Homo sapiens: one gene and its partner. The protein of the gene in region 1 purifies or fractionates together with the protein of each later gene. This does not show direct contact. Each region holds a gene or a part of one and is shown in the gene's direction. Other genes may lie near its edges.

What was found.
Region 2: the proteins of RAB3GAP1 (region 1) and VAPB purify together in Homo sapiens (affinity purification with mass spectrometry; 6 studies listed by BioGRID and IntAct, with this or other methods). This does not show direct contact.

The regions. Positions count from the first base shown.
Region 1 is NC_000002.12:135,055,116-135,070,563, forward strand, and holds part of RAB3GAP1 (rab3 GTPase-activating protein catalytic subunit), read left to right. Parts: intron 1-2,895; coding exon 2,896-2,971; intron 2,972-10,516; exon of another isoform or gene 10,517-10,619; intron 10,620-15,448. UniProt on the Homo sapiens protein: Catalytic subunit of the Rab3 GTPase-activating (Rab3GAP) complex composed of RAB3GAP1 and RAB3GAP2, which has GTPase-activating protein (GAP) activity towards various Rab3 subfamily members (RAB3A, RAB3B, RAB3C and RAB3D), RAB5A and RAB43, and guanine nucleotide exchange factor (GEF) activity towards RAB18.
Region 2 is NC_000020.11:58,437,068-58,454,381, forward strand, and holds the end of VAPB (vesicle-associated membrane protein-associated protein B/C), read left to right. Parts: intron 1-1,877; coding exon 1,878-1,958; intron 1,959-2,078; exon of another isoform or gene 2,079-2,241; intron 2,242-3,839; coding exon 3,840-4,016; exon of another isoform or gene 4,017-4,017; intron 4,018-7,009; coding exon 7,010-7,168; 3' UTR 7,169-14,034; downstream 14,035-17,314. UniProt on the Homo sapiens protein: Endoplasmic reticulum (ER)-anchored protein that mediates the formation of contact sites between the ER and endosomes via interaction with FFAT motif-containing proteins such as STARD3 or WDR44.

The DNA.
Region 1 (15,448 bases):
AGTGCATTACAGACACAAATCAAGTAATACAAGTCTGTAATTATGAGTTTATGTAAGAGCTAGAAAGGGAAAGAAACCTGGTCTTATAAGAGCCTATAACAGAGGGACCTAATATAGAATAAGGAATCAGGAAATGACCCTTCATTTCCTGAGAGCTTTTAAGGAAAAAATTACTTAGTTTTTCTAGTCAAATCTCAATACTTGTAGGATAAAGTCCAAGTCTCTTAGCTAGTACTGATAGAATTCATTATTCATACAATAAGTATTTTAAGACATTCCTGGCCGGGCATGGTGGCTCATGCCTGTAATCCCAGCACTTAGAGAGGCTGAGGCAGGCAGATCACTTGAGCTCAGGAGTTCAAGAGGAGCTGGGGCAGCATGGCGAAACCTTGTCTCTACTAAAAATACAAAAGCTAGCTGGGCATGGTGATGTGCACCTGTAGTCCCAGCTAGTCAGGAGGCTGAGATGGGAGGATTGCTTGAGTCCTGGAGGACAGAACTGCAGTGAGCTGTGATTACACCACTGCATTCCAGCCTGGGTGACAGAGTTGAGACCCTGTCTCAAAAAAAAAAAAAAAAAGACATTTCTTCTTTTACTGTAAAAACTATATTTTAAATAGTTTTCACTATAATAGTAATACCTTATAGTAGAATAAAAAATAAAAATCACCTGTAAACTTAACACCAGGAAATAACTGCTGTTAATTTTTTGACATATTTCCTTTTTTTTTCTTTTTTTGAGACGGAGTCTCGCTCTGTCGCCCAGGCTGGAGTGCAGTGGCGCGATCTCGGCTCACTGCAAGCTCTGCCTCCCAGGTTTACGCCATTCTCCTGCCTCAGCCTCCCAAGTAGCTGGGACTACAGGTGCCCGCCACCACGCCCGGCTAATTTTTTGTATTTTTAGTAGTGGCGGGGTTTCACTGTGTTAGCCAGGATGGTCTCGATCTCCTGACCTCATGATCCGCCCGCCTCGGCCTCCCAAAGTGCTGGGATTACAGGCATGAGCCACCACGCCCGGCCGACATATTTCCTTCTAACGTGTGTTAAAAACTTTTTTGGATCAAATATTAATATTTCTTTTTCTTTTTCTTTTCTTTTTTATTTTGAGACAGAGTCTCACTCTGTTGCCCAGGCTGGGGTGCAGTGGTGCAGTCTTGGCTCACTGCAACCTCTGCCACCTGGGTTCAACCAATTCTCCTGCATCAGCCTCCTGAGTAGCTGGGATTACAGGTGCCTGCCACCGCGCCTGGCTAATTTTTGTTGTATTTTCAGTAGAGACGGGGTTTCACCATCTTGGACAAACTGGTCTTGAACTCCTGACCTCGTGATCCACCCGCCTCAGCTCCCAAAGTGCTGGGATTACACGCGTGAGCCGCTGTGCCTGGCCTTTGTATATTTTCTTTTGATTGACATGATTTTTATTGGGTGCATATTAGTCCTCTGAGTGGATTAATTTACAAGTATTTCCTGCAGTTGGGCATTAAGGTAACTTCCAGTTTTTTTAGCTTCGTAAATATAGTATACATTTCATGCAAATTTTTGCTTGCCTGTGGATATATTAAATTTTTCCTCTTTGGTAAACATGTAAACTTGTTTCTAGAGCACTGATTTTCAAACCTAGTAATTGTCATTTGACTGACCTCCCCCATGAATTAGTGTATGAATTGATACTGCATTTAATTTTAAAGAGGAATTAGTAAGAAGCCTCAGATGAATCATAGATTTATTATTACTATCTTAAAACATAATTATTAGTTCATATTAGTTCATAATGTCACTGAAGGAAAAAATCTGTTGCCTTTCCATACAGTTTGACTAGAATTAACTCTAGTACTCTAGCAGTACTTCCAGGTGTTTAGAGAGCAATGTTGCTGTTAGATTGCATCATACTTAGCTTATATAAGAAGTCAACTTAGAGTAAGAATAATTCTTCTGAAAATGTCTTTGACTGAGACTTGACAGTTTTCATTTACTGATGTTGAGCATGTTGCTACTCAAAATTCAGTTCTCTTTTTAATAGGCCTTCTTGACCATTGGATTTAAAGATTGGTGACTAGTTTTAAGACCTGTCACTTATACTTAAAGTTGACATATTTACTTGCAATTTCTTGTCAGCTGTCCATTAAAACTTGTTTTAGTTTCATGAACCAAGTTACCAAATAATATTTTCTTTTTTTGTTGGGGGCTGGGGGGGTAAATCGGAATTCCTAATATATTTAAAGGAAAAGTTTATTTAAATAGGTCAGTTATTGTGGGTAGGAGAGAGATGATTGGTTTCATAATTTTATTTATTTATTTATTTTTGAGATGGAATCTCACTCTGTCGCCCAGGCTGGCGTGCAGTGGCGCGATGTCCGCTCACTGCAACGTCCGCTTCTATGTGATTTTTGTGCCTCAGCCTCCTGCGTAGCTGGGATTACAGATGTGTGCCACCACACCGGGCTAATTTTTTTTGTATTTGTGCTGGGCTGGTCTTGAACTCCCAACCTCAGGGTTAGGAATTCAAAGGGCTGGAATTACAGGCATGAGCCACTGCACCCAGCCCATAATTATCTTTAATAGTATCATTTTAGTCTGTCAGTTTTTATTTGTGCCCCAAATTTGTTTTATTCGTTTTATTAGAGATTCATCAATTCTTAATTTACATTTTATAGAAGGCAGAATGCTTTTGTTGGGTAAGCAATAGATATAAATGAATCAAAACCTAAGAATTCTTGAATGAAAGAAGATTATTTCTCTTACCCCATATCCATAAATTAAGCTAGCAATACTAAATGTACTGAGTCCTCTCTGGTCAAATTGTTAAAATATAAAAAATACCTTTTTAAAGAAATTACATAATAATAGGAAAAAAGGTGTGCTGTTGTATTTAGAAGCTTTCTCCCTACTTCCTAGGTTTATTTCCAAAGTTGAAGAAGTCTTGAATGACTGGAAACTGATTGGAAACTCTTTGGGAAAGCCACTCGAAAAGGTCAGATCTATTTGCTGGTGTCTCTAAATGACTATTTACTTTGAAACCTCTATTTTCCAGCCCTTTGCTGCATTTGGCACATTTGAATTAAATGTTTTTTAAAGTTACGTATAATCTATAAACATCAAATAGCATTTGGAAGAATTTGGATTTAAATCTGTGGCAAATGATATATGTAAGACATTTGTGAAATGTTTAATAAAGTTATATATATGTGTGTGTGTATATATATATATATAAAATGTCATTCTTTGTGAGTGATTCTTTGTGAGTGAAGTTTGCTTCTCTTTTGCCTTCTCCCTTGGAATGTTAAAACATGTTTTTAAAAGTTTTTTATTTGGTCAGAGAAACATTGCAGTGACCATCTTCTTTGGTAGCATATTTTGCTTACTAATGAGGAAAATTCTAGTACTTACCATTGACTTACTGTAGTTAACAACTATTTCACTCAGTTTTTGTATTTTATAATATCACTAATAACATCCCCCTTCCCTTTTAAGCTTTTTAACTTATGGATGTTTTAAGGATTTTATTTAAGAATGAAAAAATTACTCTTTGAAATTGAGGTAGAAATCAAATTCTAATCTAAAGTATTGGTAGTTTTATTCATAAACCACACCCCAAATGTTTACTGAAGAATGTACTCTGAGAACAAACCTGGATTCACTGTGAAGGGATCTAACAATTTGATTTTAAGTTTATGTAGATGCTTAGTTTGTTAGATAAATTCTTTTGAAATAAAATTTATGGTTGGTTTTATTACAACTCAATATTACTAACTCAGTGATAACTTATTAACTCAGTAATTATTAATTCAATAGTAATTTAATTATAATTTACCCTGTGTTAGGAACTTTGAGTTCTCAATATTTGCTAGGGGTTTTCAGCTTTGTGATGGTGATACTATCAAAAAAGAGACTGTCAAAATGCATTAGGAAGCCAGGCAACATGGTGAGACCCTGTCTCTTAAGGAAAAAAAATCTCCTTATTTGTATCAATATGAACAGAAAAAGTAAGACCACATATAAAAAATACATCATTCAAAGACTCTTGGCAATATATACATTGATTTACTACACTACATGTGTGAATAAAGAAAATGTGACGCTTTCAAACACGGGTCATTCTACTCCACTTGAAACAAATACATAACAATTGATATAGATGCCAATAAGATTAGAGGCAAAATAAGCTGGATATAGCTAGAATAGGAAATGATTTACACTACTAAGAAGAGAGCTAAACCGGGTACTTATGAGCTCTGATATTCTTTCATTCTTTGATTTACATGTATTTACTGAGTACCTGCTATGTGCCTGATGTGAAGAAATTGTGAACAAGATAAGATCAGTGTTGCCATTGAACATAAATTCTAGTGAGGGTGATCAGTAAAGAAACATTAAAATTTTATTTTATTATTATTTTTTAAATTGATATATGATAGATGTACATATTTTGGGGTACATGTGATAATTTGATACATGCATATAATCAAATCAGGGTACTTGGGAACCCTTAAATATTTATCTTTATGCTAAGAACATGCAAGTTACTCTCTTTTAGCTATTTTGAAATGTACAGTCAATTAGTGTTAACTAAAGTCACTCTAAGGGTTAAAGTTTTAGATGCTAAATTCAGTTTTGGGATTTAAGTGGGTAGTTATTTAAAGTAGGTAGCATACTGCCAGGCATGTAGTAGAGGCTAATGAAGTCATAGCTCCAGTCTGTTTCTCCCTACTAGATAGTAGTACATAAATAAGATACAGAAAATATGGGCAGATTTCAAGGTGAGCTGTAACTATGATGAATATGAAGAAAGTGTAGAGGACAGGGATTGTTTGGTGTAGAAAACAAAGTTTAGAGACTTCCTTTGAAGATTTTAACTTATATGAAGGACAGTGATTATTAATTTTCTCCTCCACTGAGGGGGAATTAAGGGAAATTATTTATTAAAAACCTTTAATTATGGAAAATTTCAAACATATATGAAGTAAACAGAATAGTATAATGAACTCCCATGTACCCATCACTTAATGTCAACAATTAATACTTTGCCATTTCTTGTTTGAGTGGTACCTCTGTTTACTCCCCTACCTCCACTAGATTTTTTTAATAGTTTTTTTTTGGGTAAGATTTATATACATTGTAATGGACAAAACTTAACTGCTTGATTTTTTTTTTTTTTTTTTTTTGAGACCGAGTCTCGCTCTGTTGCCCAGGCTGAAGTGCAGTGACATGATCTCAGCTCACCGCAACCTCCACCTCCCGGGTTCAAGAGATTCTCCTGCCTCAGCCTCCCAAGTGGCTGCGACTACAGGCACCCGCCACCACACCTGGCTAATTTTTTGTATTTTTTAGTAGAGACGGGGTTTCACTGTGTTAGCCAGGATGGTCTCGATCTCCTGACCTTGTGATCTGCCCGCCTCGGCCTCCCAAAGTGCTGGGATTACAGGTGTGAGCCACCGCGCCTGGCCAACTGCTTGATTTTGACAAATGTTCACATGGGTATAACTTACACTCCTGTCAAGATAGAGGTCATCTCTGTTACCCCAGGAAGATCCTTAGTGACCCTTTCTAGTTAATTCCCATGCCCTCCAGTCATCTGCTATTATTATTATTGTTATTATTATTATTATTTGAGACAGAGTCTTGCTCTGTTGCCCAGGCTGGAGTGCATTGGTGTGATCTTGGCTCATTGCAACCTCTGCCTCCCGGGTTCAAGCAAGTCATATGCCTTAGCCTCCCAAGAAGCTGAGACGACAGGCATATGCCACCTTGCCTGGCTATTTTTGTGTTTCTAGTATTTTGTATTTTCACCACGTTGGCCAGGCTGGTCTCCAATTCCTGGCCTAAAGCAATCTGCTTGCCTGGGCCTCCCAAAGTGCTGGGATTACAAGTGTGAACCACTGGGCCCAGCCTTTTTTTTTTTTTTTTTTTAAATAAACATAAATTACTGTCACCTGCTTTAGAACTTTACATTTAGGTGACCATAAATGTCCTTGACATCCTTTACTCACGATAATGTTTTTGAGATTCATCTAGGTTGTTGTACATACCAGAATTTCATTTCTCTTTATTGCTGTGTAGTAAGTGATCTGTTTTATGAATATACATGGTTTCTTTCACTTGTCCACATACGTACTATTAGGAATAAAGCAGAACATTATTGTATGAGGCCTTTTGTGGGCATATGTTTTTATTTCTCTTGAGTAAATACCTAGGATTGGAATCACTGGGTAATAGGATAGGTGCAACTTTATAAGAAACAGCTAGAGCTTTTTGTACTGTTTTACCTGCCCACCATCAATACATGGGAGGTTGTGTTGCTATACATTCTCACCAACAATCAGTTGTTTGCAGTCATGTATATTTTAGTCATCTTAATGGGTATGTAGTTTGTGCTTTTAATTTATATTTCTCATTTTGGTTTTAGTCTGTATTTCTGTGATGATATTAATATTGACCACTTTGAATTTTCATGCATTTATTAGCCATTTGTTTATCTTCCTTTGTGAAATGTCTTTTCAAGTTCTTTATCCATTTTAAAAATTGGATTTTGTTTTTATTGAGTTGTAGGAGTTCTTTTAGTTTTTTTTTGGTATATATATATTCTGCTTTTAAGTCTTTTCTCAGTAGTTTTGCTAGGTTGTGAAGATGTTTTTAATGCATTTTTCTAGAGGGTTTACCAATTTATCATTTAACCTTTGTTAAGGTCTATGATTTATTTTGAGCTACTATATGGAGGGAAGTAGGGATCAAGTTTCTTCTTCCTTTTTTTTGTGTATGGATATCCTGTTGTTCTAGAACCTACTTTGGAAAACACTTTTTCCATTGAGTTGCTTTGTCACCTTTATTGAGTAGTTGACCTAAGTGGTCTACTTCTGGAGTCTGTATTCTGTTTCATTAGTCTATTTGACTATCCTTATGTCAATACCATATTGTCTTTTTCTTTTTTTTTTGAGACAGAGTCTCACTCTGTCACCCAGGCTGGAGTGCTTGATCTTGGCTCACTGCAGCCTCCTGCCACCATGTTGGCCAGGCTGGTCTTGAACTCTTGACCTCAGCTGATCCGCCCGCCTCGGCTTCCCAAAGTGCTGGGATTACGGGCATGAGGCACTGCGCCCGTCGTATATTGTCTTGATTACTGTAGTTTCAGGTTTCCTAACCTTGGCACTATTGACATTTTGGGCCACATTGTTGTGAGGCTGTCTTATGCATTGTCAAATATTTAATAGTATCTTTGGTTTCTACCTGCCAGATGCCAGTAACATGTTTCCAGTTGTGACAACCAAAATTGTATCCAGATATTGCCAAATGCCCGCTGAGGGGCAAAATTGGCCCCAGCTGAGAACCATTGAATGGATTTTTAGTAAATCCTGATGTTAATGTAAATTCTCCATTTTTGTTGTTTTCCCAAGATTTTAGATCTTTTGTGTTTCAATTATGAATTTTAGAATAGGCTTGCTAATTACTATAAAAAGGAGTATGATTATGCTGAGACTGTAATTGGGGTTGGGTTGAATTTGTAGATCACTTTGGAGACATTTTAACAGTTTTGAAAGTTCTAGTCATGAACATGGCACATCTCTCCATTTATTTAGGTCATCTTTAATTTTCCTCAGCAACATTTTGTAGTTTTGGTAGAGGTCTTGTATATCCTTTGTTAAATTTATTACTAAGGATTTTATGTTGTATGATGCAAAAATAAATGGAATTGTTTTTTAGTTTTGTTTTCCAGTTGTTCACTGCTAGTACATAGATACATGGTAAAATTTTGTATGTTAACTTTGTGTCATAACGCCTGGCTAAACGCACTTATTAATCGTGATCATTTAATTGTTCTGCATTTTTCTACATTAATAATTATGTTGCACACAAATAGGGACAGTTTTACTTTCTTTCCAATTTTTATACCTTTATGACTGTTATTGTACTATCCCAGACCTTCAGTGACATGTTGAGTAGAACTGCTGCAAGTAGACATCCTTGCCCTCTTTAAATGTGAAGTGGGGGGAAATGTTCAATGCTTCAAAACTTAAGTTAACTGTAGGTTTTTTAATAGGTGTCCATAAGACTGAGTAAATTATTTTTTTAGTTTGCTGAACGTTTTTTGTTTTTATTGTAAATGAGTAGTCAAGTTAGTAAAATCTTATTTAGCATCTATTGAGATAATCATATAGTTTTTCTTTTTTATTTTCTGAATATGGTAAATTATGTTGATTAAAAATTTTTTTGTTGTAAAATGTAAGATTTACCATTTTAACGATTTTTAAGTGTAAAATTTAGTGGCATTTAGTACTTTCACATTATTGTGCAATCATTACTACCATCCACATCCAGAACTTTTTTCATCAGCTCAAACTGAAACTACCCATTAAACAAGAACTCTTTCCCCACCCTCAGTCCCCTGGTAACCACTCTTCTACTTTCTGTCCATGAATTTGACCATCCTAGGTACCTGATATAAATGGAATCATACAGTATTTGTTTTTTTGTGTGTGTGTCTGGCTTATTTCACATAGCATAATGTCTTCAAGGTTCATCCAGGGTTATAGCACATGTCAGAATTTTCTTCGTTTTTAATGCTGAATATTAATATTGTATGTATATATCACATTTTGTTTATCTGTTCATCTGTTGATGGACACTTGGGTCGCTTCTACCTTTTAGCTATTATAAATAATGCTGCTATGAACGTGAATGTACAAATATCTGTCAGGTTCCTGCTTTCAGTTCTTTTAGGTTTATACCCAGAAGTGGAATTGCTGAATTATTTGATGGTGCTATTTTTAACTTTCTGGGGAACTGCCATACTTTTGGCTGGCTACAAATTTTGTTTTTGTTTTCCTGAAAGATTTTGCCGTATTTTTGAAGGATAGTTTTGCTGAAGAGTGCTGGCTTGATGCTTATTTTTTTCCACTTCTATAAAGATGTAGTTCCATTGTCTTCTGTTCTCTGGAGTTTCTAAGGAGAAGGTAGATATATTCATATTTTTGTTTGACTTTGTTGTTTTTCTCTGGCTGCTTTTGAGATTTTTTTATTTAAAAAAATTTTATTTCAGCCATCTGACTATGATGTGCACAGATACGTTTTCTTTGTATTTTTGCTGCATAGGGTTTATATTGATATTGGATAAATTTTTGTTTTTCACCACATTTGGGGTGTGTTAGGTCATTATATCTTCAAAATTTTTTTGCCCCATTCTCTACTCTTTTTCTGTGACTTAAGCTATACTTAACATTTGACTTGTTGATCCTGACCCACAGGTGGGTCTCTGAGGTTCTGCTGTCAGTCTTTTTTCTCTCTGTTCCTTAGGTTGAATAATTTTTCTTGATTTCGAGTTCATTTTTTCTTTCTTCTTTTGTTTCCAACTTGCTGTTAAGCCTACCTGCTGTATTTTTCAATTCAGTTATTGTACTTTTTAGGTTTAGAATTTTCATTTGATTCTTATGAAAAACTTCCAATTCTCTGAGATTACTTATCTCTAAGTTTGTTTGAAACTTGAGTGTATTTATTATAGCTTTAGTCCTTGAGTGTATTTATTATAGCTAGTCTAATGCCAGTTGCATGACTAGGTCTTTTTGGGGTTGGTTTCTGTTGATTATGTTTTTTTTTTTGAGTATAGATCACATTTTCCTGTTTCGTTTTGTTTTTTTCCTGAGGTGTTTTGTTTTTTTTTTTTTTTGATATGTGTATCCAGTAATTTTAAAGTTTCATGCTTACATTATGAAATGTAGAGACGAAATGTAGTCTACATTTTATTTATAATGTAAGCATAAATTTTCATTCATAAAATTTATAACATTTATGTTGTGTTCCTCTGAAGAGTATTTTTTTTTTTTTTGGTTGTAGAGAGTGGTTTGCTTGGCTAGATTAAAACTGCATTCTCTTTTCAGTGATGGCAGCAGCTGAAATCTTTTCTTTCCAGCTTTTTCTTTGTCATCGTACCCTAGAATCTCCTCTGCACATGCATGGTTTAGCAGATAGCCAAGGTTTGGGACAGTTTATATATAAATTTGGGGGACTTACCCCCTTTTGGCTTCTTCCCTTCCAGAATTTACACCTCAATGTTAGAACTGTCCTGTCACCCTCAAACTTTGTCCGGTGTCACCTAAATTCAGTAAAGCTATATCTTTCTGCTTCCCGAGTTGTACACAGATTAGAGCCCCCTTAGATCAGCAATTCTCAGTGTGTGATCTGAGGACCGTTGTCTGTCTCTGAGAACTTTGCAAGGGGTGATCAGGGTCCCTGCCTTTTCCAGTTAGGTACGTGTGTACTTGAGGCCAAATTTTCTTCATATACTTCAACTAGAACAATGGATTGCAGTGATTCATTGCAGAAGCAGATATGAGAATATAGTTAACTTTTTAAAAGCTATACATTAAACAGATTTGCAAAAAGGTAGAACAGGGTTACTCTTCTCATTAATATTTTTGTTCCAGAAAATGTCATTAGAACTTATATGTTAAAATATAAAAAGTTCATCATTATTTGTAATGAATTAATAAATTACAATTTTTTCCTTTTCAATTTTTTTGTGTTTTCATGTCAGATGGTAATGTACCAATGTTGTGACAATGTTTGAGGGAGGCATATCTCATATGTATGCGTGAAAACTTAAACGTCACGCTTTCGAACTATGAAAGGATCTCTTAAAATTTCTAATACGGGATCTTCACTAATTTTTTTTTTTTTTTTTTTTTTGAGACGGAGTCTCACTCTGTCACCAGGCTGGAGTGCAGTTGCGCGATCTCGGCTCACTGCAACCTTTGCCTCCCAGGTTCGAGTGATTCTCCTGCCTCAGCCTCCTCAGTAGCTGGGACTACAGGTGTGCGCCACCATGCCCAGCTAATTTTTTTTTGTATTTTTAGTAGAGATGAGGTTTCACCATGTTGGCCAGAATGGTCTCAATCTCTTGACCTTGTGATCTGCCTGCCTCAGTCTCCCAAAGTGCTGGGATTACAGGCGTGAGCTACTGCACCCCGCCAGTAATTTTTAAGAGTGTAAGGGTGTCTGAGTCCAGAAAGTTTGAGAATTGCTCTTAGACAAAAAGGTATAAACAAGTGCCTGTTGTCAGATACACTTTCTTTTTCTCAATGGGTAAACTCTTCCCAGCTTCTGCCTGCATTTGGTCTCTCTCCAGAGCATTGAAAAATGGTGTTTTTGTCCAGATTTTATAGGAAAGTTTATCTGACAAAGCTGCTTTGCCATTACCAGAACCCAAAGTGCTGGGAAATGATTTTAAAAGGGAAGGAAATGGCAATTATTGAGCACCAGCTATGGTATTGGTATCATGCACTATAGTTGGGACTGTGTCTGTTAACTTAATCCTTAAACAGACTTCAACAGTTAGTTATAACCCTATTTTATGGAGGAGAAATAAGGCTTTGAGTTCATGTGGTACTGTAATTTTCCCAGTGTCATTTTGCCAGTAGTTTTGGTATAAGCGGGATTAAACCTAGGTCTTGCCTTCAGAACCCATGTTCTTTCTATTTTACTCTGTCCTTTTTGGTTTCAGAAATTTAAGTGTGTGTAAAATTACTTCCAGTGAGTATTAACATAGGTTTCTAAGGCAGATTTTGGGATTCTGTTGTCTGGGGCTTTATAAAATAGATAAAAATCTTGGTGGTATGAGTATGATCCTTGAAGGCAAGGGAAGTAAAGAAATGACCTTTTAAGTTCCTTTTAGCCTTGTAATTTTATGATTCTATTTAGCTAGCAAAAATTTTAAGTACTTTTAATGAAATGTTAAGTTTAGGTATGTCATGATCCAGTAATATAACTGTTTAGTCAGTGACTGACTCGTATCTCCCTGAAAAATTCATGGAAGAAGAATTAGCTTGAGAGTATTAATAGAATAATAATGACTACAATGATGTTGAAATGAGTTCACATTTTTCATACCCACTCAGTAGATGGGAATGACACTTCAGTACTTAAAGTTCATATGGCAAATTTAAAATGAATTTGAATTATAAATTTTCTCAATTAGAAACTTCCCAAACTAAGTTATAACAATAAGTCAAATTTGGGACTTATATAAACTTTATATAAACAGTTTAGATTCCTTTATTTGCATTATCTCAGAACATTTAGTTTTTTTATGGAGTATTAAAGTGGAGGAGTATATGTTTTATCAAAGCTGAAGTTTTTGGAAACTAAAGAAGGTTGAGGATCAGTCACTGATGGGAATGCAGTGTTTTTGAAATTCAGTAAATAAAAACAGAAGCAACATTGAGCTACTCACAACCTTGTTTGGAATGGGACATGTAAGATAAGGTTTGTAGTTTGTTTTTTTTCCTCTTCATTTTTATTTTTCCTTTAAATCGTAACCATAGTGTCTATAGCTTCTTTGGATATTATGTAGAAGAAAAAAAATAGGTGTTTTGTTATATCTCTGATTCATTCAAATTGGAAGTTTTGGGAATCTTGCTGTTATTGTTGTCAACATTTTTATTGTAATATAAAAATGGCAGGAGATATCTTTAAGAGGCAGAATAGCACACATAGGTGATGAAGAGTATGCACTTCAAAGTGGTACAGCTTGTGTTGGAATCCTAGTTCTGTTGCTTATTTGCTTTGTGGCATTGTGCTGTCTCAGTTACTGTTAGTCATTATTTATTGTTTTTGCCTTTCTGTCTTAATTGCTGTTATTATTTTTGAGAGAGGGTCTTGCTGTTACCCACGCTAGAGTGCGGTGGCACCATCTTGGCTCACTGGATGGAGCCTCAACCTCCTGGGCTCAGGTTATCCTTCCACCTCAGCCTCCTGAGTAGCTGGGACTACAGGTACATGCCACCATGCCCAGCTAATTGGTTAAATAATTTTTTTTTCTGTAGAAATAAGGTCTCACTATGTTGCCCAGGCTAGTCTTGAATTCCTGGGTTCAAGTGATTCTCCCGCCTCAGCCTCCCAAAATGCTAGGATTACAGGTGTGATCCACTGAGCCTGGCCTCTCTTACAAGTATTTACTAGAGTCAGTAAAATGATACTTGCTTAAGTAGAGTAGAATATAAACATAGAATTATTTAACACTCTATTGCAATAAAAACGATTGTTTCTTAGAGCACCTATCAGTTAAAAGCATAGCACCTAGCTGGGGGAAAGCTTTATGTAATATATTCTGGCTGAAAAAGCTCAAGTTTAATTCTGAGATAGATAAGAATTAAGTATCTTTTTAGACATTTTTAGTTCTATTATTTCCTAATTCTTTTATATATTTTTAATGATTTGCTTGCCATTTAGTTACAGCACAATAACTAAATTTGTGATAAGTGAAATTTTCAATATGCATTATGAATTTCACTTTGAACTTAAATTTGGTTTAAGGTATATGCCACTAAAGGAAGTAGACTATAAAAATTTTTCTTAAAAAAAAAAAAAGAGGCTGGGCGCCGTGGCTCACGCCTGTAATCCCATCACTTTGGGAGGCTGAGGTGGGCAGATCACCTGAGTTCAGGAGGTCAAGACCAGCCTGGCCAACATGGTGAAACCCTGTCTCTACTAAAAATACAAAAATTAGCCAGGTGTGGTGGCAGGCACCTGTAATCCCAACTACTTGGGAGACTGAGGCAGGAGAATCATTTGAACCGGGGAGGCAGAGGTTGCAGTGAGCTGAGATCACGCCACTGTACTCCTGCCTCGGTGACAGAGTGAGACTCCATCTCAAAAAACAAAACAAAACAAAACAATCCATGCTTATTTTAGACACTGTTTGATGTAATGAAATTTCTCTGTAATTCTAAACAACAAACATCAATCTGCTATGAGAGTTTTTCATAAATTAATACTCATTTTCATTACACGACGTGCTAACTTAAATTTTACCACTTGGCTGGGTAGGGATCACATTTTGTTATAATGAATGCAACAAAAAAGATTTTTCACAAAAAATAAGTTAACAAAGCCATAATCATTTACGGGAGATTTTGGCAGTTACATCTCTATTGCTGTGACTCTTAACCTTTTTTATGGTCTGGCATACAGAGGGTGTAATTTGGTATCATTAGTAATAACAGTTAATTTGATAATTCATTTATTACATACACAACACATTGCCTGGTATATGCTTAGTACATGTTTGTTGATTGACTCCCCAGAATACACGATTAACCCCTTGAACTTGTCATGTTCCCTTTGTATAAGATATGCAGTGTAAACAGACCACATTTACTTACCTGGGAATTTTGTTAAAATATGGTGATGGTGGCATTTTTAAAAGCATTATACAGAAGATGGAAAGTCTTCTGGATGGTCTTGTACCTTTTAAAATAACTGTAGTTTAATTTTTCTGCATTTAGTTTTATAATTAACCATTTTCTGTACTTTTTTTTCTTTATTTAGTCATTTTTCCCTTTAGGTTTTTGATTTAGTGATTTGATTTTTCCTTCTAATGAATTTCATATAAATTGGCAAGTTTTATGGATGAGTCATTTTCTAAAACTTTGTAAAAATGGTTGTTGAGAATTTCAATTGCATTTTTCCATAGAACAGATGTGTTTAAGATATGTTTACAGGGTAGCAAATAAAATATTAATTTTTTCTCTCTACTTTTGGGGCCATGTCATAAAAGATTCTTCATCATCTCAACTACTTCTTTTTGTTCGTTTTATTCATTTTTTTCATTTATTTATTTGTAGAGAGCCTACTGTGCAGTAGGAATTATCCCCCTCACTTCCTGTTTATTAAAACAACCTTCTACCCCTGCCCTCCCTCACCTCCAGATTATTAAACCCTTTTCCCTTTACTCCACAGTCATTTTATCTCAGCTGTCATACTTTCTGTGCCTCCCTCCAGGAAAGGAAAAAAAATTTTTATCTGAGGAATGGGAGCTTCTTTAAATTATCCATCAGAAAGAGTCATTTAAAATGTAACAGCAGTCTCACCTCTCCTGAGCTAAATAATTACCTTGAAGCCACTTGCCATGTGGGTTGTTAAATGATGCCAATGGCCATAAAATGCCATACGATGGGTATTATAATTCATACCCTGTAGTTCAACAATGTATAGCCAATCACTAATCAGTGTTATCTCTGTAAACCAATGAGAATTCCTGTCAAACAACTTGGTATCAGCTCACTCCTTGTTTCCTTTAAAAACCTGTTTGTAACAGAGGCAGACAGACAGACAGAACACCCCCCAAGGCAACTTGGAAATGTGTCCCGGGCTGCAGTCCTCAACTTTGGCCCAAATAAAATCCCTCTGTTATTTTGCCTCAGCTTCTTCTTTTAGGTCAACATGTGTAACTAATGACTTGGAGCTGTTCAGGCAGTTAGAGTTCAACCAGTTTAAAAGCCACATAGCTCATCGTGGATAGAAGGACTTTACCATGGTATATAATGGGTGTTCTTTCTGTCTTTAGTTTTTTAAGTAGAGATAGGGTCTTGCAGTGTTGTCCAGACTGGTCTCAAATTCCTGGCCTATAAAAGGAATTATTATTTTTATTTATTTATTTATTTTGTCAGCCAGCTGGAGTGCA
Region 2 (17,314 bases), on another chromosome or scaffold:
TGGCTTGACCTCCACCTCAGCTGTTCGAGTAACTAAAACTACAGGCATGCCACCATGCCGGCTATTTTTTTATTTTTTTATAGAGTTGGGGTCTCACTATGTTGCCCAGGCTGGTCTTGAACTTCTGGGCTCAAGTGATCCTCCTGCCTCTGCCTCTCGAAGTGCTGGGATTACAGGTGTGAGCCACTGCACCCTGCCCAAACTTTGAACTTCTTTTTTTTTTTAAGAGTCCAGGCCAGTTGACTTACAGAATGTCCTGTATTCTGGATTTATTTGATTATTTCCTCATGATTAAATTCAAGTTAAATGTGTTTTGGCAAGAATATTCCATAGTTGGTATTTCATACCAGGTTGTTCCGCTGTTGGTGATGCTGTTTGATCACTTGGTTAAGATGGTGACTGCCAGCTCTCTCCACTGTCATAGCACAAAGCACATTTGCCCCTGTGGTTAATAGGTAATCTGTGATACTCTGAGTCATCTGATACTTTGAGACCATGTGAATATCCTGCTCGCCAGCAGTCTTTCACCTGGTGCTTTTAGCATTCAGTGATGATCCTTGCTTGATATTTTTTTTGACTTATGTGGTAGGCACACGTGTACAGGTGTGTGTGTGCAGAGGAGCAGACTTCAGTATTCTTTGCGATTTTTTCACTTAACATTCTGGACATTTTCTCCATCTAACTGAGTGCTCTTCAGCATCATTTGAGTGGCAGCATGCTGTTCCGTTTAGTGGATCTGCCATAATTTTTGTGGCAGTCCCCTAGGGTCAGATGTATAGATTGCTTCCCACTTTTGGTTCTTGGTACCTGTGTTACAGTAGCTGCCTCTTGCATGGTTTTGGGAAGGGTTGAGGGCATGGAGGGTGGGGGTGCCTTCTTTTTCTATATCATAACCTTGCTGCTATCCTGGTCTGTAATCCTAGAATACCCTGGAATTCCCATCTTCTGCTGCCAAAAGGAGAAGTAATCAGGAGCGTATCCTCTTAGGACATGGGATTTAGCTAGGAAGGTGCTCTCACTACAGCCTGGAGGGATGGAGATGGGTCTTGGGGTAGACACAGCCCACACACTGCCACAGTGACAGAGGAGGGATTTGGTAATGAATGTGTTCCGTTGGTAGTTGGCAGAGTGGTTCTGAAACTAGTCCCAGATAGTATGCGCTTATACTTTCTAGATATGCCTTTAAAATAAGTTTCATTTTCTCATTTTAATTTAATTTATTATTTTTGAGACAGAGTCTCTCAGTGTCCCCCAGCCTGGAGTACAGTGGCATGATCATGGCTCACTGCAGCCTCCACCTCCTGGGCCCAAGTGATCCTCCCTCCTCAGCCTCCTGAGTAGCTGGGACCACAGGCATGTGCCTCCATGCTTAGCTAATTTTTTAATTTTTTTGTAGAGATGACGTCTCCTTACGTTGTGCAGACTGGTCTCAAACTGCTGGGCTCAACCAGTCCCTCCACCTCAGCCTCCCAAAGTGCTGGGATTACAGGCATAAGCCACCATGCCCAGCTGAAAACAAGTTTTATTTTCATAAGGAGAGCCAAGGTTACCTGGTCATCCAGACATTGTTTAGAGGATTCCTTTTTGTTCAGTGGTGGGCCTGTCCCACAGAGTAGCAACATGGGGAGCATTGGTTGACTTTGAGGAGTCAGGCAGCAAGACTTCAGGGTTTATGAAGTGTAATATTTTGAGAAAGTGAGTGTATTTAATCTTGTCATGTTACAAATATTGAAATCTCAGCAGACTTCAGTTCTTTATTTGATATACATCAGGGCTTTCTCATTAAGAGTATTTTTCTGAAATTGTCAGTTATAGGAAGAAAGTTATTCTTCCAGCAGGTTTATAATATCTTGATTATTAAATTTAAATTGTTTTAGTGGAAGGAGGCAAAACCGGAAGACCTTATGGATTCAAAACTTAGATGTGTGTTTGAATTGCCAGCAGAGAATGATAAACCAGTAAGTATATTTATAGTTAACAATAATTGAATGTTGTAAGCTGATACTTATTTGCATACCATTTCCTGCAAAACCAAGATTTAAGTTGGCAAATTATTTTCCTTTATCTGATGTCTGAAGAAAAAAAATAAGCTGAAGTCAGCAAATAAGTGGGCCTTTATGAAATCAGCCTTTGAAAAACTCACGGAAAGACAACTGATTGACAGTGTTTCCCCTTGAAAAGTGCAGCCCGATGGCCATTGAGATGTCATAAATCCTGAAGAGCTTCTGTGGCCTGGCAAAGGTATAGGTTGCTGTTAAACAGTGGGTGAGAGTGAAAGAGGGAACAATTTGCCCTTTATCATGGTGGTTGATGGACGTGTGGGAAGCTTTCAAGTTCTCTTGTTTTACAAAGTGCCCTGTCAGCCTCCCTACCCCTTTTACCCTATCTACCTCTTCAATCAAAGGCTGCTTTTAGATGAGGATTTCTCAGCCTCAACACTGTTGATATTTGGGGCAAATCCTTGGTGGTGGTGGAGGTTGCCCTGTGTACTGTAGGGTGTTTTATTAATAGCAGCATCCCTGGCTTCTGCCCTCTTGATACTGGTAGTACTTCCCAGTTGTGACAACTAAAAATGTCTCCAGATATTGCCACATGTGTCCTGGAGGGCAATATCAACCCCCATTGAGAGTGATCCCATTCCGGTGTTGCCTGTGGGGAGAAGGAAGGAGCCCCATCCTCTAGGCTGTCCACTGTGAGCGCTTTACCTTTCATGATCCTCACTTGTGACCAGTTGAAGAAAGGAGACTGTATCTGAAATGCTAATTTGGACTTCCCTTCAACCTAGTCGAAAACATTTTAATTTTTATAAAAACACCAAAACTGTGAAAGCATGCAGCATGTGAAACTATCCTAGCCATTAATAGCTGGAGTTGGGAAACAGAAGTACCCTGAAATGTTGTGTTAACAGTATCTATGTTGGTCTGCGCGAGTGCTGTTGATTTGTGTCAAAACTACCTGAGATTTTATTTCTGCTGAATCATTTACCACTATCATTACCCTGTTTCTTTAAGTGGATAGTGGTCATTTTTTCCCTCTTCCCAGTGTACATCCTGTCACAGGAAGGTCAGTTTGGAAGCTGTGAAAGCAGTATTCTGGCCTCAGCTCTGTGATAGGTTGACTTGGTAGCCTGGGGCCTTGCTTCACAGGGCCTACTCTTCTCATCTGGAAAATGATGGGTAGAGCTAGATTCCAGGCCAATGATCGTCAGTTACTCTTTCCCTGACAAGCTGCGTGCTTCCATGCCCTCCCTCCACTGACTGGCTCTCATCCCCTGTAAATCTCAAGAGGGGATCATAGCTGAATCTTGGCAGGGGAAATAAGGGGAGTATGTAACTTCCCAAGATTGAAACATTGCAGACACTGAGTTTGTTTCACCTTCATCCCAGCTTCCAAATGCTAAGTTGGTAAAGTAATTCGCCCTCTGTCTAATGCTCTCCCAAGCCTCCTAACCCCACTAAGGCAATCCTAGGGATGTTCACATCTTTGTGGTGACAGTAATTTGTGGCTAATAATTCCTGAGCTTGCACAATTACAGTATGCTGATTTTTCCGTGGCAGGAATTTGATAGTGCAATATACACAGCCCTTTTTCTCTTTCTTTGAAGTATTAGTCTCAGCCGAACTTCATTATTTGCCCTTATCCATAATTTCTAGGGCCCTGTTGCTTTAGATTATTAAGATATCAGATAAAGTAATCCATTTTTAAAATAAATGTGACATTTTACAGTGTGGATGAAATGCTACCACGTTTGGTGTTTGCTGAGAACTACTTTACTTTGCATAAAAAAGTCCATTATTACATGGTCGGTGACACTTAGGCTTTCATTTGTTTTTGAACAGCATGATGTAGAAATAAATAAAATTATATCCACAACTGCATCAAAGACAGAAACACCAATAGTGTCTAAGTCTCTGAGTTCTTCTTTGGATGACACCGAAGTTAAGAAGGTTATGGAAGAATGTAAGAGGCTGCAAGGTGAAGTTCAGAGGCTACGGGAGGAGAACAAGCAGTTCAAGGTAATAGTTTATTTTCTGGTAATCTACAGAAAACAAGGGCGTTTTCACTAGCTTCTTGGGTGGGGAAGTTGATGAGCCAGTGAATATATAGATTTCTTTTTGCTTTTGGTATTTGGCTATTTTTTTCTCCCCAGGGAGAAATTTCCATGGCTTTCATGAGAGTCTCAAAAGGGTCCTTGGATCTGCCTAAATTAAGAACCACTGTCCCTTGATCAGAAATTTCTCAACTGTTGAAGCTCTTGTCCCCTTAAAAAAAAAAACAAAAACAAAAAACTTGGCCGGGTGCGGTGGCTCACGCCTGTAATCCCAGCACTTTGGGAGGCCAAGGCGGGCCGATCACAAGGTCAAGCGTTCAAGACCAGCCTGGCCAACAAAGTGAAACCCCGTCTCTAATAAAAAATACAAAAAATTAGTTGGGTGTGGTGGCAGGTGCCTGTAATTCCAGCCACTCGGGAGGCTGAGGCAGGAGAATCGCTTGAACCCAGGAGGCGGAGGTTGCAGTGAGCTGAGATCGTGCCACTGCCCTCCAGCCTGGGTGACAGAGCTAGACTTCGTCTCAAAAACAAAATAAACAAAACCCCAAACAACTCAAACTCTCCATTATTGTAAATTGAAAATAAATGTTGAGACCAAAATAGTTTTTATTTTGAATATGCATTTTTAAACCACTTGGGTGAGAATCTTTTTTCAGAGAGTGAATACTGACCTATACTCTGTTTTAATGCAAGTATAGTTCTGATTTTAGAAGACTCTAAATAGGTCTGGGCAGTTGTGGCTCATCAAACTATTGATGTGGTGATGAGCTTGGAGGTGGGGTGCCTCACAGTGGGTAGGAGGTGGAGATTATGGAAGGAAAATCTGAGCTTCTAGCTTCTGGATGAGGCAGTTGGCATTGGCAATGGAAGGTTGTATTGTACTGAGTGATGAAGTGGGGAGGCAGGGGGTGCTTCTTTTGGCTTGTGGTGGTGTGGAAGTTGCTCCCATCCAATATGAAACAGCTCTGAATCTGTGCTGGTCACAGCATCTCTTAGGCCTCTGTTTGCTAAACACCTCTAAGGCCCCTTCCAGCTTTAAAAGTATGAGTTTTCTTCTCTTTTACTCTGACAGTGAGGTAGATATAGGAGAACTGACAGCATTTGGGAAATGGCATCATCTTCTTCCTTTGCAGTGATTTTGATTTGCCTCAGTCAGTAATTTCTTTAGTGTGTAGTAAATTGTGAAGCTGACACTACTTTTTGGCTAAAAATCTAAGCTATGCCTGAAGCTTCTCGAGTGTATTTCTCTTCTGAAACAGAGTTCTGTGCTATTTAAAGTGGTAAATAGGTAGAAATAGCTTCTATATAACCTAATAAAATAAATGGTTTAGTTTGCCGGGTTTTTTTTTAAGCCAGTCGGACACCACCAGTTGTTTATCACTGTGCAGTGATACGGGCCATGCCCCATGAGCAGAATATCCTTAAAATATGATCAGACCAATCTCAACATTAGAAGATTCTTTATCCTGCCAAACACTGCCTTCTTGTTTTGTGTTGGTTTATTCTGTCATCTGGCCAACAAATTTACTGAGGGTCTAATATGTGCCCGGCACTGTGGATTCAAACACGAACAGCCCCTGCCCTTGAGGAGCTCTCTGTTGTTGGGATAGCAGGGAGAGACATAGACAGAAGTGATTACAAGCCAGTGTGATCAATGTCCCACAGAGATAGCAACAAATTGCAGGGAGAGTCAGCTCCATGGGACTCATCTGCCTGTGGTCCCCAGGACCTACTAGGTACTCGGGCGGATGGGAGCGAATGGAAGGAAACGAAGAAAAGAAAGTACAGCTGGTGTGTGGGGTTTAAGGATGAGGAGATGAGGTAATTAGCAAGAGATCTATCAGCAAAGATGAGTCTGTGCCAGAATAGAATGGCTTGATGCATGTCCCTCTTCAGGGATGTGGGCTTGGCTTTGAGAGCATGGAAATGGCATCATAGATCTACATAGTAACTTGCAGATTCTTAGGAAAGTGCAAGGCAGTTGTGGCAGTGGAGGTGAAGGAAGAAAAAATTTTTCATTTCTTACATTTCCATGTAGTTTGGGGACAAGGGGAGGGTGGGGAATATGGTCAAATATCTTTATATGTATGAAAAAGAATGTTGCTTCTTCAATGAGAAATCTATGCATTAAGTAGAAAATATTTGAGATGAGTGTATGAAGGCCAGTCACATTTTAATATTCCAAATATCATTTGATCCAGCAGTCTGGATGTAACTCATTAAGTACCAGCTATCTACAGAGCTCTGCATTTGAAAGCTTCCAGATGTCCCACTTTTAGGTTTTTTTTTTTTTTTTTTTTTAATATGGAGTCTCACTCTGTCACCCCAGGCTAATTTTTGTAATTTTAGTAGAGACGAGGTTTTACCATGTTGACCAAGGGGTAGTCTTGAACTCCTGAGCTCAGGTGATCCACCCGCCTCAGCCTCCCAAAGTACAGGGATTACAAGCATGAGCCACCGTGCCCAGTTGACTTTGTAGATTCTTTTATTTATATATTTATGTCTTGGGAAATGCCTGTGATTTTAAAAATCGATGATTTGATCAAGGAAGGCTATTCATTAGAGGCAGGAAGGACAGAGAGGTTGGGGTTGAAGAGAAGCATCCGGAAGACATGGCCATAGAGGTGGGTGGGGCCGAGGGTGCAAAGGGCCCAGTTGACCCTTTTAAGTGCTTTTTTCTGTAAATCACGGGAAACCAAGGAGCACCCTGTTTAGATGTCTGTTGTAACTAGCAGCAGCAAGTGGAATGGATGAAAGAAAAGAGGGGACTGTTTTCTCAGTGGCTTCAGGCTAGCCCTTTCCCCTCTGTAGCCTGCAGTTTCTCCGTTTGCAAAATGCGGTTGGACCATATCATGTCATCCAACACTGGGCATAAACAGCCCATCCCGTTAAGCTGTACAGTTGACTCCCCTTTCTGGTGCCTTGGCTTGTCTTTGAAATGTGCGTTTGCTCCCGTAGGAAGAAGATGGACTGCGGATGAGGAAGACAGTGCAGAGCAACAGCCCCATTTCAGCATTAGCCCCAACTGGGAAGGAAGAAGGCCTTAGCACCCGGCTCTTGGCTCTGGTGGTTTTGTTCTTTATCGTTGGTGTAATTATTGGGAAGATTGCCTTGTAGAGGTAGCATGCACAGGATGGTAAATTGGATTGGTGGATCCACCATATCATGGGATTTAAATTTATCATAACCATGTGTAAAAAGAAATTAATGTATGATGACATCTCACAGGTCTTGCCTTTAAATTACCCCTCCCTGCACACACATACACAGATACACACACACAAATATAATGTAACGATCTTTTAGAAAGTTAAAAATGTATAGTAACTGATTGAGGGGGAAAAGAATGATCTTTATTAATGACAAGGGAAACCATGAGTAATGCCACAATGGCATATTGTAAATGTCATTTTAAACATTGGTAGGCCTTGGTACATGATGCTGGATTACCTCTCTTAAAATGACACCCTTCCTCGCCTGTTGGTGCTGGCCCTTGGGGAGCTGGAGCCCAGCATGCTGGGGAGTGCGGTCAGCTCCACACAGTAGTCCCCACGTGGCCCACTCCCGGCCCAGGCTGCTTTCCGTGTCTTCAGTTCTGTCCAAGCCATCAGCTCCTTGGGACTGATGAACAGAGTCAGAAGCCCAAAGGAATTGCACTGTGGCAGCATCAGACGTACTCGTCATAAGTGAGAGGCGTGTGTTGACTGATTGACCCAGCGCTTTGGAAATAAATGGCAGTGCTTTGTTCACTTAAAGGGACCAAGCTAAATTTGTATTGGTTCATGTAGTGAAGTCAAACTGTTATTCAGAGATGTTTAATGCATATTTAACTTATTTAATGTATTTCATCTCATGTTTTCTTATTGTCACAAGAGTACAGTTAATGCTGCGTGCTGCTGAACTCTGTTGGGTGAACTGGTATTGCTGCTGGAGGGCTGTGGGCTCCTCTGTCTCTGGAGAGTCTGGTCATGTGGAGGTGGGGTTTATTGGGATGCTGGAGAAGAGCTGCCAGGAAGTGTTTTTTCTGGGTCAGTAAATAACAACTGTCATAGGGAGGGAAATTCTCAGTAGTGACAGTCAACTCTAGGTTACCTTTTTTAATGAAGAGTAGTCAGTCTTCTAGATTGTTCTTATACCACCTCTCAACCATTACTCACACTTCCAGCGCCCAGGTCCAAGTCTGAGCCTGACCTCCCCTTGGGGACCTAGCCTGGAGTCAGGACAAATGGATCGGGCTGCAGAGGGTTAGAAGCGAGGGCACCAGCAGTTGTGGGTGGGGAGCAAGGGAAGAGAGAAACTCTTCAGCGAATCCTTCTAGTACTAGTTGAGAGTTTGACTGTGAATTAATTTTATGCCATAAAAGACCAACCCAGTTCTGTTTGACTATGTAGCATCTTGAAAAGAAAAATTATAATAAAGCCCCAAAATTAAGAATTCTTTTGTCATTTTGTCACATTTGCTCTATGGGGGGAATTATTATTTTATCATTTTTATTATTTTGCCATTGGAAGGTTAACTTTAAAATGAGCCCTATCACTGAGAAATACGTGTTTCATGATTTAACTCTGTGTGTGTGTGTGTGTGTGTGTGTGTGTGTGTGTGTATTTTTTTTTTGGTTGTCTTCAGCTGACAGTATGAAAAATGAAACTGCTGAAAAAGCTGAGCACCTGGTCACCCTTGGCCTTCCATTGCTTTGGCCTTCAGTAAAAAGCAGCCTCCCTTCTAGGTCAGGGAACCATGCCATTGAGACTAGTAACGGGCGTTCTGGGCACAGTCCCACTGTGCACAGGTTTGAGAGGACAAGTTCATCAGAAGGAAGGCAGTCCTTAGAAGTCACATACGTTGAGCCACGTTGCTCCTAAGCCTGGCTCTGTCAAGCTGGGTCAGGGGCCTTGAAACTGGAGAAGTGGAAGTCTATGGTTGGTCTGAGTAAGTAACTTCCTGTCTTCATGAAAAAAGTTGACTTTGAATCCCAGGTACTCACAGAAATGGTGAACAGACTTAGTTGTTACCCAGGCACCCATGGATTGTGTTGAGTGTGCAGACAGGGAGGCCACCCCAATAGGAATTCGTCTCCAGGATTTTTCCCATGTGTCCCCCAGTACTTATAAAAGGGAGTGAAAAGACCGAGCTGTAAGGCATGTGCCTTCTGCCACCTGACTTTCCGTGAGGGGACTAAAATTTACTAATTGTAGTTGCTGCAGCCAGTTAAGTCCTGTAGCTTCCAGGCCCTCATGTCTTTGATAGGAGAGTGCTTAGGTGGTCCCCAACAGTGCCTAGGGGTACAGTACAGTCCCATTACACTAGAGCAGGGCTCTATTTATTTTTAAAGGATATGGCCGTGTGTTTTGATAAAACTTTATTCACAAAAACAGCCGGGTCATGGGATTTGGCTTGTGAGTCTGTAACAGTTCTTAAAAAGAATATCTGAGAAACTACTCTGTTTTAGACCTTTGAAGGTGATTTAGAGTTTTGTGTACATCTAGGAGAAGGTGTTCAGCTTCTCAGAGGATGTGGACATTTTGGTTGCAGCTAAAAATCAGTCTCTGAAGTCTCTCTCCCTTCTAGAGGTTAGGACTTGGTGAACATGTTTGTGGGCCTTTTGACTGAGTGGCAGAAGGAAACTGCTCAGGAAGAGAAACAGGTGACTGATGGGAAGGTTGATTATTTTCTCAGTCATCCTGGCAGCCAAAAATGTGCCAGGAAAAGAAAGAATGTGGAGCACGCGTGGCTCCTGGAGGACTTGGAGATGCATGCACATTTAGGGTGTTTTCCCTAGAATTACATAATGAAAAAAAGAATAAGGCAAAGAGGAGGTGAATATGGGGCCTGTCACAACGGCCTGCCCTGCCCCAAGAGGGTTAAGAGTCAGATAATCGGGACGAAACTGGCATGGAAAGAGCGAGCCTAGGGAGGATGCCGCTGGGCAGTGTGCATGGGGGAGCTGCTGCCAGGCTGCCCTCCAGTCTGCTCCTGTGGTTACTGGCTCCACAGCACCTCAGAGAGGGCGGCCCTGGCTTCAGAAATGCCAGCCATAGTGCTCACAAATGCAGAAGAGATGGAAGCGGTGACAGAATCCTGAAAGTTTTTATTGATTGAAGTTTTAAATTGGTAACTTAAGCTTCCTTGGCACGATACAAAATACCTCTTAAAGACAGCAGGCTTTTTTATTTGTAGGTGTGAGGAACTGGCTTTAACTTTTTTCTCCTCCTAGTTTGCATGTTTTCCTTCTCTCGTCTTCTGAACTGCTGGCACCAGCAGTAATACATACTGATAAAATCAAAATTGATTTTTACCAGTGGCCAGTTTATGGCTAGAGAGACGACTTATACCTCCATAACACAGAAGGGGGAAAAATGAAGAACCTCCAGTGATCCGTGAAAACCTAAACGCTTTCAAACAAATCCCAGGAACAGAATTGCTATCGAAAGATATCATTGCCCAGTTTGCAGGCTATGTTGAGTCAGATAGAACTGAATGTAGTGAGAGCTCAGAGCTACAGAGCCTTTCAGATGAATTTGAAAACAGACTCTGTGTGTGTGTGCATGTGTGCATGTGTGCATGTGTGGCATATGTGCCGTATGTCAGTAGCTTGACAGTTTTCAAATCGTGCCTATATTTTTTTGCATACACAAATTTTTGTGTTTGCAAACTCAGAATCCATGCCAAAATACAATGTTATATGTCATTTTCAGCTCCTTCTCTAAAGGAATGGCCCATTTCTCATTGTAGTTTGAGAAATACATGTATGAAGAGATAGGGGTCTTGGGCTTCCCAGTGTCACTTTGAACACCTGAATAACATTTAACTCCTGAGACCTTCTCGGTGTAGAGGCCACTGCTTCCCCCTGCTGGAGATGGCATTTCATTGAAGGGCCTCTCGTGGCTTTCCCTGCCCCCGGCTGTCTGGCCTGAAGAAGGAGAAAGAACCAAACTGAACTATGAAAAGTTACCACTCTGAGGAGACCTCTCTTAATTAACACTTGGGGCCATGTTTGCTGTTGTTGAGAAGGAGTGTTCTCAAAGATGAGCTGGAATGGAATTGTATTTAGAAAGGCCCCTGCAAAGTATATAGATGGATGACTCTAGTTCATGACATACAAATCCCATAAGGCCAACGACCACTCTTCTGGAACACCAAGAGCAGCTCTGAGATCATGCTGGCCCTACGCGAATTGAGTTTCTGTGGCCTAATTGGATTTGGAGAACGCCTTCCCTGGCCCCTTTTCCTCAGACAGATCTGCTCTGATAGGAACCTTTTCAAGAAAGTTACTGTTGTTTCAATGCCACTCCTTACCTGTATAGAACATTTCCAATACATTCGCTCATTGAACTTAATCCTTGCAACTGTGACTGGGGGGTAGATGGCTCTGTTTGCATACGAAGAAATAAAGGCTCCAGGAGGTTAAATCGGGCAACTTTTTAGAACTAAATCAGTCTCTGTAAGGCCTACATTGCTAAGATACCATTTCAGCTCTGAAAATCTGCTTCAGGGAAGTGAGTGGATGAGGCCTTCCTGCCTCAGCTACTCTGCCCGTCTGTACATCTTTTGTGTCTGCCTCCGTACCTTATTCAGTTATTTTCACACTAAAGTAAGTAGAATTAAGACTGTAGTTCAGATGCTTTTTCTTTTTCTGTTGGAAACTGAACACACTACAGACAGTGAAAAAAGGTACATATTCCATTTTCTCATTGCCTGAAGATCTCTGCTGATGCTCCTGGAGAATGACTTTGGGGGCTTTAGAAAGAATATTGCCAGTCCGTCTCGGCAAGGAGATGATGGGAGCGCTTTATATGGAGGCTTTACATGACTTGTAAATTAAATGTGAATGAGGGCAGTTGATTAAAATTGGTATTACAGAAGGGCCCTGCTGAGGTTTGAAAACAGCTGAGCTGCTGATGTCTCAGGCCTTTCCCTGAATTAGCACTGCGGTTCTCCAGGATATCAGCAAAGAGGGCAAGTAATAGAAGCCCCTGATAAGGAGCGTCAGCCGACAGGCAAGCTTGGGAGGCTGTGGGAATGGGTCTGCCCCCAGCTTCACAGACCTCTTCCTCCAGCCTCTGAATCCCATTAGCCACAGCCTAGAACATTAGCTGAGCTGCACAAGCTCACCCACCCCTGTGCCAGGGGGCCCTGACCTCCCTCCATGCCATGTTTTTGGCTGTATCTACGGCACTTAACAATAGGGGCTTTTTATTTTCATTACAGAGATATTTTGAAAAATTTAAAAGACATGAACTCACATAAACAGTTATGGATGATAGTTAAAAGAGAAACGGGTGGAGGTGGATGAGAGGTTGTCTTCATGAATATAATTACTTGAGATTTTTTTTTCTTAATGGAATTAGTTTATTAGAAAATGTCTGTGTTAAATCCGTAGAAAAGGAAGAAAAGTGTAGCAACAAAAATGTAGCCATTATCTAACTTGCCATAAATATTTGCAGTTATGATACCTTGGAATGTTGCCACGATATGGATTGCTTTGATTAAAAGATGTCAGTTGAATAAAACAGTACTGTGGGAGAATCGCTTTCTGCTGCTAGATAAATGCTGATGTTTATTTTTAAACCAGGAAACATTGATCCTGTAACAATGCCCGATTACAATTGCTTTATTACACCCCAGGGCTGATGGAGATGTAATCACTTGGCTAATGGATGTGGGTGCAGGACAGATGCTCGCTTGCTGGCCTGCTTTCCTGCTTGCATTCTGATGAGCTGCAGGAGTGCGCCTGGCCTTCTGCAGGTGGAGCTGCTGTCAGAGCTTCGTTTCACTGATACCCAAAGCCATGTCTGACTGAAATAAAACAGGTTCCCTTTTTTTTTCCCTTTGGAAAATGCCAACTAAGGGAGACTAATCAGATATCTTAACACAATTTCATCCAGGCTTAGTGCTAACAAGATTGCGGGGCTTTTTAGGGTTTAAGAAGATGAGAAATGAGTGTGCACGTTTCACACGTTGACTTGCCGGTTTTTCCATGTCATACAAAAAAGTCCTGGCTGTTTCTCCGAACTGGCTGCCTGCATTCCCGTCTTTCTTTTGTTTTTAAGAAATAGACTGAATTCAGCTGTTAATCCTCTAGTACAGTATCCATGTTAAAATGTTTTTCCATTGCATCTTTTATGTGAATTCAAAGGTCAGAATTTATTGTCTGTGATATTGAGACCATGTGTACAAGAACTACTTTTTGCTTTTCATCATTCACTCCTTAGCAAACGTTTCGTAAGTACCCTCTGTCTGTTTGCTACTATATGAGGTGCTGCGAAATTAGTGGGCGTGGCTTTTTATATTTTTCATTCGTGTGTAGCCTAAGTAAGGTGACTCAAGATGATACACCGAGAGAAAAATGCAAAATATATTTGGTTCTCATTTCTGTTGCTGTCGTTTCCTTTTTAAAGACGATTTATCAACTGCTGCCATTTGGAACTTCCTATAAGAAACTAAAAATGATCTATTTCAGTGTTCCTTTCGCCTTTCCTCTGCTTTCTGAATAAATGGTTTCAGTAACCCATGCTGTTCTCTCCCTATTCTACGTCTTTCTCCCTATGTTGAAAAAAGATTCCCACAGTTTCTGATGTGTGTGTTTATAGTCTTCAATGTATGTTAACATGTTAGGAACTGAGTATCTTAAGAGATGTCTTAGAATGCTTTAGTTTTCATAATTTGTCCTTTATGTATTTTTCATTGTATTTGCTGTTTTGACATGGAAGTAATTTAAAAAGTTGGTGCAGGAAAGGACTCTTTACTGTTGCACATTTTGGTTTTCTGATATGTAATAAATTCATGGCTTGGCAGCTGACATGATGTTTCCCAGAGAGAAGGAGATGTATTTCTGCAGGGTCCAGACCAAAAGAGCCATTTACAGCATGTTCTCCCATGTTCCATTATCAGCCTGATGAAACCTGCCCTGCCAAGGCATAAACTTTTGTACTAGCTGTCTCCATATTATGTTCAATAAATTCTGTGCTCTGAATATATTTAAAGGATGCTTCAGTGTAAAATTATTTTGAATGGATGGCTTAATTCCATTGAGATAGGCTTTGGAGTGTGGACTAGAGCCCGTTGCTCGACTCTCACTGCTTTGTAGGAACATGAAATTGGTTTAAATTAAAATCAGAGACCTTTTGCACCAGAAAACAGATCTAAGAGATCACTTAGGTCAACGTCTTCATTTTACTGATGAGGAAACTTTTGCCCAGAGAGCTTAAGCACAGGGACCAGCTTGCATGTCAGTGTTTTCCTATTGGGGGAAGTGTGTGTCATCAGTGATTTACAAAGGTACCCACCTGTGTAAATTGCTTCCAGCTTTGAAAGGTGGGTGGATTCTGTCTTTTAAGTAGTGGTTGACAGTTCTCCATCTTACAGTGTTACCTTGTTAAAACGTTAATGAAAACAATTTTAACTTCTTTTGGAAAAGTAAGGTGGGCAAATGGTAAGACTTCACACAAGACCAAGGGGTACACAGTATACAAAATCAGGTTTCCTCCATTCCCAAACCTTTCTTTCTCCAGAGATATCCTGAACTTTCCATGTGTTGACTCTTTCTGGAGATCTTCTATGCACATATATGTCTGTGTATATACAGCCTTGTGTTTTCCTTTTGTTTTGAGACAGGGTCTCACTCTGTCATCCAGGCTGGAGTGCAGTGGTGTGATCACAGCTCACTGCAGCCTCCACCTCCCAGCCTCAAGCAATCCTCCCACCCCGGCCTCCTGAGTATCTGGGACCATAGGCATGCACAAGCATGCCTGGCTATCTTTTTTATTTTTTTGTAGATATGAGGTCTCTCTGTGTTGCCCAGGCTGGTCTCGAACTCCTGGGCTCAAGCCATCCTCCTGTCTCAGCCTTCTAGAGTGCTGGGATTACAGGCGTGAGCCACTGCACCCAACCATGTGTTTTCTAATACACATGCAACAGCACACACTAACTGCTCTGTTGTGCATGTTCCTTTTTGGACTTTGAAGTTTATCTTGGAGATATTTCATGCCAGCCCACATCATTCTTTATGGCTGCATAATTTTCCTCTGTATGTGCCCTTAATTTACTTAACCAGCCCTCTATGGAGGTACGTTTAAGCAGTTTCTAGTCTCACTGCTAAAGACAACGCTACAACAAACACTCCTACAAATGAGCAGGAATATCACAGAATCAATTTGTAGAGGAGCAGTGGTTGGCTCAAAGGGTGCCTGCATTTTAAATTGTGTTAGATGGCTTCCACATTGCCATCCAAAGAGGAGGTACCAATTCATAGTCCTCGCAGGGTCTGCTGCTTTACGCTTTGCCAGCACCTTGCGCCATCTAACTTTTTGATCTTTCCTCACCTGTAAAATGCACGTGGTGTCTTACTTTGAGTTTGTGGTTCTTTGCATGAGGTTGAGCAGTTGTTTATGTATGTAAAGGCCATTTGAAAACACGATGAAAACCCAGAGTGAAGTAAGGTCAAAGGGAGCAAAGGTTTATCACACAAAGGGCTGATGGCAGAGCAGCAGAAATGAAGAGGCTAAGGGCACACAGTCATGAATGTGGAAATTGGAGTCTACCTTGTTTTACTAACAGGAAAAGGACTTGCAGCAAAGTGTATCGAAGTGGATTGGGCAGAGGGAAATAAACAACCGTTCATGGCAACTGCTAGAGCTCTGATTCTTGACCTGTACTGGCCACCTCACTTGCTCTCATCTGGCTGCATTCATGTCATTCTTGCATCTCTGGGGTCCTTTTAACCATGGCCTTCCCAGAGGGTGCAGGGGAGGCAAATGTCAGCATCCCAGACCAAGGAGAGCTTCTGTAAGAGAGACTGAAAAATGGTGATGGTCATTAAAGAGTTAAAACCCGAAGCGTTAAAACCCCAACTGTGAAGGAGTTTTCTAAACAGCAACACAAGGAGCTATTTTGAAGAAGTGACCACACTGATTTGCCATTATCTCTGGTTAGTGCATTAGAAGACAAAACCTGCTACCTGATAATTTGCCAAGGAGTAATGGGAGTGACATGCCCCATTAGAAACTGAAAATACTCTTCAGAAATTGCACTTAAGAGTCTAGAGTTTTCTTTTTTTCCAAGTAGAACTTTGGCCTCTGTTTTCTTAGCAATGTTTGACTGCTAAAATCACTTCAAAGAAGAAAATAGTACAAATTTGAAGAAACACAAAATTAGTGTTACGGACTTTCTGAAAAATGTTACCTTTATGCCACTTCAAAAAATGTTAAAGAAATGTATAGGGAAGACAAGAAGCTTTTTAAGTCAAACCAAGACCCGCTGTATATTTTAACCCCACCCTGCAGTCACATTGTTGGTCCTAAAAGTGCCTCCACACTAAAGAAAATACTCTCCATTAGTAAAGAGAAAACTACCCTAGAATATTCATCCAGCTTATGTGTGAGGAAGGGCTGGCAGTCCACGGCTAGGGCCCTGGCATGGTCCCCACTTTTCCTCCTGTTTCCCAGAAGCTCAGACTCCCAAATGCTCTGTTCTCCCATGAGTGGGCCCGGCTGCTCTGCTCAGCCCTCTGTGCTCCACCACTCTCGCATCCCAGAGCATTCGAAACCTCTCTTAACACGGTCTGCCCTTTACTGGATTGAAAGCAATTTGAGGGGAAGTTCAAGGTTTTTTTGTTGTTGGGTTTGGTTTTGTGGTGTTTTCAGTTTTTTTTTTTTTTTTTAATACCAAAGTATTTTGTGTGCATAATATAAAAAGCCAAACAGCTATAACAGGCTCATAGTGAAAAGCAGCAGGCTCATATCGCCCTGGGCTACCTCTTCCCAGAGGTTGCCAGTTTAGCACATTGAACTGTTTCTTCTGATATTAACATCTACATTTCCTAATAATGTGGTTATATTACTTTTTCTTGATTTTTCACTTCTATATATTATCTATTGATTTCCTCCTAAGGGAGATAGGGATTTAGCTCTAATAATCTTTCTCCCAACCACATCCCAAGCATAGATTTCTTTCTCTCTCCCTCTCAGTCATGTTATAATTTTTGGCTACATCAGTATACTTTTGCATGATTAAGACTACTGAGATATTGTTTACACCTCTACCTTAAATGTGCTATGCTTATATTTCCCTTTTATGTGTAATCCTTTGTTTTCCCGGAGTCACTACGTCTTAGTGTCTTGTTTGCTCAGTTTCCTATGTATCTATCACAAATTCAGCCCAGACCCTGATAGAAGTGTGAATCTCAGCACAATCACAACACCTCAGGCAATCTGATTTTTCTGGTTTTCTTAGGTCACTCCTGGAGCTCTCTGTTCTCCTGCTCCT